Linked DNA regions of Homo sapiens. The protein of the gene in region 1 purifies or fractionates together with the protein of each later gene. This does not show direct contact. Each region holds a gene or a part of one and is shown in the gene's direction. Other genes may lie near its edges.

Region 1 (3,655 bases):
AAATAATTCATGTGTTCCAGATGCTATTTCTTTTTTTTTTTTTTTTTTTTGAGACGGAGTCTCGCTCTGTCGCCCAGGCTGGACTGCGGACTGCAGTGGCGCAATCTCGGCTCACTGCAAGCTCCGCTTCCCGGGTTCACGCCATTCTCCTGCCTCAGCCTCCCCAGTAGCTGGGACTACAGGCGCCCGCCACCGCGCCCGGCTAATTTTTTGTATTTTTAGTAGAGACGGGGTTTCACCTTGTTAGCCAGGATGGTCTCGATCTCCTGACCTCATGATCCACCCGCCTCGGCCTCCCAAAGTGCTGGGATTACAGGCGTGAGCCACCGCGCCCGGCCTGCTATTTCTAACTCAGATAAAAGATGATAAGAGTTTTTACTTCATTTTAAAATTTACATTTGTATTTTTCCTCAACATGTAAAATGTGGTTCTAACAATAAGATTATTGAATTGCAAAATCTGGGGCAGGAACTATTGTATTATATTAGAAGATTGGAGGGTTACAAATACAAATGCCTAAAGGGGCCAGACAGCCAAATGAATATATCAGGCCTGTTATGAAAATCATCCGGGAATGGTGGGGATTAATAAGCCAGAGAGCATATATCCCATCTAAAGGAGGCATCTGTGACTTGATTCTAGCTGATTTTTGCCAAGAGGGAATATGGGCATGGTACTGCTTGGTTTTTTCATTTTTAAAAAGAAGACGTAATCCCTGCACTTTGGGAGGCCAAGGCAGGCAGATCATGAGGTCAGGAGATGGAGACCATCCTGGCTAACACGGTGAAACCCCGTCTCTACTAAAAATGTAAAAAATTAGTTGGGCATGGTGGCACGCGCCTGTAGTCCCAGCTACTTGGGAGGCTGAGGCGGGAGAATTGCTTGAACCTGGTAGGTGGAGGTTGCAGTGAGCTGAAATCGTGCCACTGCACTCCAGCTGGGGCAACAGAGCAAGACTCCATCTCAAAAAAGAAAAAAAAGAAGATGTAAATCCAAATATTTTATGTGAAATTATTTAGCTTTTAAATATTGACAATACTATTGACAAACTAAGTCAAAGTTTTAAAAAGGACTTTTGGACCAAACAATGATTTCTTCCATAGGTTATTAGTTTGTAACCTCTTGTGAGAAAGATCTAAGGATTTTCCAGACCTCAGACAATCTGAAAAATATATTGGGAAAGAGTATGAGAAAGGGAACTTAATCATCTTGGTTTTGCTGATCATGATTACATTTATTTATCTGACTTTTATTTTTTAGCCTTAAAAATTAAAATAGCCCTATTGACCATTAATTTTGCTTTTTATTTCTTTTTGCACATTCAAAATAGGAACTTACAATGTCTCAGAAAAATGGTGGGAATGTTCTTCAGATGATGTATGAGAAACCTGAACGATGGTCTTTTACCTTCCAAACATATGCCTGTCTCAGTCGAATAAGAGCTCAGCTTGCCTCTCTGAATGGCAAGCTCAAAGATGCAGAGAAACCTGTATTATTTTTTGAACGATCTGTGTATAGTGACAGGTATGTATAAATGGCTTGTACGTGGCCATTTGAAGTTTTTATCTTAGAACTGGACTTTTTTTTTTTTTTTAATGTTTCCTGGGAATTAGTAATAATGAATGGCTGAGCTGGGGATTTAAGATGGAAAATGACATTTAAATCCCTCAGCAGTCTGGTACTAATGGCATTAGGGAAGTTATTGCATTTATAATCCTCAGCTTCCATAGAAACTGTTGGGAATATGGTGGTGCCCATTTCATTTAAATTTGCAGAGAAGTTGTTTTTCCCTCTAACCCTTTTAAAATTCTCATCTGCTCTGGTTAAATCTGGATCTATATCCTAGACTCTTACCTGGATCAAGAAGATAAAAGTCTCTAAGGGGCCTTAGAATTGCCCTACTTATGCTAGGATTCTTTTGACCTCCAAAGTTAGCTCAGAACAGAGGTTCTCAAACATTTGATCTCAGGGCCCTTTTCAATTCTTAATAACTATCGAGGTGTCCAAAGAGCATGTCCTATTGATACTTAACATTACTAGAAATTAAGATGCACAAAAATGATTTAAAATTAGCAATAATAAATTCATTACATATTAATATAAATACATTTGACAAAAAGTTATATTTTCTAAAATAAAAAGTAGCTAGAAGAATATCATTGCTTTACATTTTTGCAGATATCTTTAATGCCTCACTTATTAAAAGACAGCTGGATTTTTATTTATGCTTCTGTATTTAATCTGTTATGGTATGTTTGTTTGTTTGAAGTATATTGGTATATGAAGTAATCTGGCCTCTCACAGAACCCCTTAGAAGATCTTGGGGACTTAATGGGGTCCTCACTCCGTATTTTGAGAACCATTGGCCAAAAACATGATGGAAAGACTCTTGTCTTTTTCTGCTTTCCACGGCACTATGTGCCACTGGATTTAGGAGAATGTTTCATGTTCCTGTTCTCTTTTTTATTTCTTTGTTGTTTTTTTTTGAAATGATACATGTGTTGATGAAGACTCTCTTTTAGGTATATTTTTGCATCTAATTTGTATGAATCTGAATGCATGAATGAGACAGAGTGGACAATTTATCAAGACTGGCATGACTGGATGAATAACCAATTTGGCCAAAGCCTTGAATTGGATGGAATCATTTATCTTCAAGCCACTCCAGAGGTAAAACCCAATAAAAATGTGTTTCACTGAAAATTTAAAGAAATATTTAGAACTCTTTTCAGTGGTATATAATGAGGGCAATTTAGTTTAACTCCAGCCTCCCAACCTCCCACTCCCCACCTCTAAATTAGAAACTTGTAACTGTGTAGATAGAAGCATTCTTTTTTCTCAGCAAACTGGAATCCCAGACTGGGCAAGTTGCTGTTTTAGGCTCTTTGTGCTTCCTCAATTCTTTTTTATTTTACTCATTATTTCTTTCTAACATTTGCAGACTCTTCTCATTCATCACAGTTAAAGTAATGAATGTGGTCAAGCAACTCCTAGAATATAGGCTTCATGAGGTGGGACCTTGGGCATTTTGATTACTATTGAATTTCCATTGCCTAGAACACCCAGTGCTGGGCACTGTTGGAGCATATAGTAGGAGCTCAGTAAATATTTACTGAATGAATGGCAATGTTGATGGAGGTCCATATCAAGAAATATTTTATTATGGTTGTTTGTGCCTTGGAATGAGTGGATAATGGCAGCTATCGTTGGGAAAAGACTTAGAGGACCCTTGCCATTTTCCATTAAGGGAGCTCACTTGAAAAGGTGCTTTTTGTGATAGGTTGTAACATAGCTATTCTAGTTACATATGATGTTATATAATGAATACAGGATGACCAAATAGATGCCTTTCATAAAACTAACCTAAATATTAAGATCTTACATTTAATCAGAAGCTTTCTGGTTTTGGTGCGTGCATTTCTATTGTTTCTGTTTTTTAATTCTCATTTTTTCCTTAAGTCACAGGGTAGGCACTGATGAATGTAAATGTTATGACTTCTGGCCTAAAATTAGAATACTGTGTTGCTGTCGAAGCTGGGTTTTCAAAGAAATTAGGTTTCCTATTCCAACGGATGATTTTGTTCTTCATTAAGTAAAGATTTTGTTCTTCATTAAGCAAGGATTTAGCAATTTTTTAGCAATTTCAAAAGTGAAT
Region 2 (3,655 bases), on another chromosome or scaffold:
AGCCCTAAAGTAGCTAACATGTTTTCCCATTTTACAAGTTAAATATTCTCAATTTATTCATTTGTTCTTCATATGATATACCGTTTACCATTCTGGTTGTCCATCCTTATGTAGTTTCATAGGATATATCCATTGCTACGTCGTACCCAGAAATGGGGTAATAATATGTTAGTTGCCACCCCACAAGCATGGGATAAGCTAGAATTATACCTACAAGTTCGGAACCTGTATTTTAATTATTAGAGGATAAGATGTAAGAGTTCCTCTTCTAGATACCTTTCTTCCCCTGGTTCTATGACCCATTTTTTTTATCCTAAATAATACAGAAAATGGTCGTGTTTGCATTATGATCATCATACTATTTTTCATGGCATTTGTCATTAAAAAATCACTGTTTTGCCAGAACATGGCAGGCATTTCCATAGTAGCCCAAAAATATTAGATTTTTTCATAGTCATATTTTTAAGAAAGAAAATATATTTTTATTGTAATAAAATATGCTTAGCATAAAATTTACCATCTTAACTTTTTTTTTTTTTTTTGAGACAGAGTCTTGCTCTGTTGCCAGGCTGGAGTGCAGTGGTGCGATCCCTGCTCACTGCAACCTCTGTCTCCCAGGTTCAAGCAATTCTCCTGCATCAGTCTCCCAAGTAGCTGGCACTACAGGCACGCACCACCACGCCCAGCTAATTTTTGTACTTTTACTAGAGACGGGTTTTCACCATGTTGGCCAGGATGGTCTCGATCTTTTGACCTCATGATCCGCCCACCTTGGCCTCCCAAAGTGCTGGGATTACAGGCATGAGCCACTGTGCCCGGCCCATGTTAACCATTTTTAAGTGTATAGTTCAGTATTGTTAAGTACTTGACATTGTTGTAAAGAACTCTTAATCTTGCAAAACTGAAACTAAACCCACTAAACAACAGCTCCTCATCCCCACTCTTCCAGCCTCTGGCAACCACCACTCTACTTTCTGTCTCTCTGAATTCATCTACTCTAGGTCCCTCATGTACATGGAATTAATAGTCATATTTAAAGTTAGCTTTCCTAATAATATAGTATCTTTGGTAATATAAACTCAGCTTCTTACAATAAAATATATAGTTGGAGTATATTTTATAGTTTTGTTAAACTAAAGAAAAACAGAAGGTGGAACTCCTTAAGAGCCTTGTTTTTTCTCTTTCTAATGCTGAGTATGTAACTATATATTCCTCTACATATAAGCCCAAGCCTTTTTTTCCAGAATTCACCTCCATCCATACCATCTCCACATACTATACTAGAAGGTGGACCAGTGTTTGCAGTCTGACCATCCTGTCTTTGAATTTAAATGGTGTCTTAATCTATACAGCCAAGAATATCCCTCTGCTCAGGTTTAAGTATAGGTGGTAATGTATATTTATCTTAAATTTTTTTTTTTTTTTTGAGACGGAGTCTCTCTCTTTCGCCCAGGCTGGAGTGCAGTGGCGTGATGTTGGCTCACTCACTGCGAGCTCTGCCTCCCGGGTTCAAGCCATTCTCCTGCCTCAGCCTCCCGAGTAGCTGGGACTACAGGCGCCCGCCACCACACCCAGCTAATTTTTTAGTATTTTTAGTGGAGACGGGGTTTCACCACGTTGGCCAGGATGGTCTCAATCTCCTGACCTCGTGATCTGCCCGCCTCGGCCTCCCAAAGTGGTGAAATTATAGGCGTGAGCCACTGCGCCTGGCCTATTTCTCTTAATTTTTTAAGTTCACTTGATCAATTTAGGCCTACAGTAACAGTGCATTTTTTAATCTAAGGCTCTTTTGCCAGGTAGGCTGTTTGGGTACTAACATGGAAGCTTACATGTATATCTCTAGAGAAGAAGTATTAAACTTTTAGATTTAGAGTGCAGAGTACAAAAATAGAAATGAAGATTTGTTTGAGATGTTAAAGATACGTTACTTGATAGGGAGTACTTAAAGTCATTTAGAGTCAAATAGATTCTGCAGATATTCTCACTGTTTTGATTTTGTAATAGTCAGGACAGGCTAACCATTCACTTTATTAAGACCATGCATATATCCCCAGAACTAGTTCTTTCCTGAGGTCTAGTTTTATAAATGTTGCTGATAAACCAGGTCTGTAAAATTGGAAAAGGAAAAAAAAAGTTTAGAAACAAAAGAATAGAGTCAAATACATAGATGTACATAAATCTGTGAGGCTTTCATAGTTTTTTAAATAAAGCATCTTTTGACTGGACCAATTAATTTGTTTCCTTCCCCTTCTGTATAAAGCTTAACATTACCATAATTTTTGTGCATTATAATGTAACTGTACTATACCTAAAAATTGCTTTTGCCTTGAAAAGCTTAGTAATAACCTTGTTTATCAAGTATACATATATATGTGTGTAGCAGTAAGAGTAAAATATCATTTACAACTTTAGCTTATAAATAGGGCATCTTTGTATATAATGAATACATAGGTACATGGTGATTTGGCTCATTTTGCTGTTTTATGTATATTTGTTTTGAGAGACGGGAGATTGTTTTGTAGAAAAGAATGGTATTTGAGACCGGGCACGGTGGCTCACGCCTGTAATCCCAGCACTTTGGGAGGCCAAGACGGGCGGATCACGAGATCAGGGGAGACCAGCCTGGCCAACATGGTGAAACCCCGTCTCTACTAAAGATACAAATATTAGCCAGGCGTGGTGGCACACGCCTGTAATCTCAGCTACTCGGGAGGCTGAAGCAGGAGAATCGCTTGAACTTGGGAGGCAGAGGTTGCAGTGAGCCAAGATCTCGCCATTGCACTCTAGCCTGGGCGACAGGGCAAGACTTCATCTCAAAAAAAAAAAAAGAGAGAGAAAAGAATGGTATTTGAATTATCACTGAGATGAGCAGTATGAGAATTGTAGCTTGACATACTTGTGGTTTATGCTATGCTTTCTTATAACAGAATGTTAAGTACTTAGGCTTAAGTGGGGGCCTTTAAAAAATAATTTTTGGCTGGGTGCAGTGGCTCGTGCCTGTAATCCCAGCACTTCGGGAGGCTGAGGCAGGATGACTACCTGAGCTCAGGAGTTTGAGACCAGCCTGGGCAACACCAGGAGACCCTGTCTCTACAAAAAATGAAAAAAAATTAGCCAGCATGCGTCTGTAGTCCCAGCTACTCAGGAGGCTGAGGCAGGCGGATTACTTGGGCCCAGTAGGTCAAGGTTGCAGTGAGCCATGATTGTGTCACTGCTCTCCAGCCTAGGCGACAGAGTGACACCCTGTCTCAAAAAATTAATTAAATAATTTTCTTTTTTTTTCTTTTCTTTTTTTTTTTTGAGATGGAGTTTCACTTTTGTTGCCCAGGCTGGAGTGCAATGGAGGTATCTCGGCTCACCACAACCTCTGACCCCTGGGTTCAAGTGATTCTCCTACCTCAGCTTCCCAAGTAGCAGGGATTACAGGCATGCACCACCACGCTTGGCTAATTTTGTGTTTTTAGTAGAGACAAGGTTTCTCTATGTTGGTTAGGCTGATCTCAAACTCCCAACCTCAGATGATCCACCAGCCTTGGCCTCCCAAAGTGCTGGGATTACAGGTGTGAGCCACCACGTCCAGCAATTAAATAATTTTCAAAGTGCTAGTTCAGTTCTGTTTATGAAAGAGAAATGTGTGTTCTGATGTCTTAGAAAA

Evidence for each region. Proteins that work in one complex are often made in the same cells at the same time.
Region 2: the proteins of DCK (region 1) and NUCKS1 fractionate together in Homo sapiens (co-fractionation; one large-scale study listed by BioGRID). This does not show direct contact.

Annotation. Positions count from the first base shown.
Region 1 is NC_000004.12:71,021,037-71,024,691, forward strand, and holds part of DCK (deoxycytidine kinase), read left to right. Parts: intron 1-1,330; coding exon 1,331-1,524; intron 1,525-2,522; coding exon 2,523-2,670; intron 2,671-3,655. UniProt on the Homo sapiens protein: Phosphorylates the deoxyribonucleosides deoxycytidine, deoxyguanosine and deoxyadenosine. Has broad substrate specificity, and does not display selectivity based on the chirality of the substrate.
Region 2 is NC_000001.11:205,729,667-205,733,321, reverse strand, and holds part of NUCKS1 (nuclear ubiquitous casein and cyclin-dependent kinase substrate 1), read left to right. Parts: intron 1-1,969; exon of another isoform or gene 1,970-2,101; intron 2,102-3,655.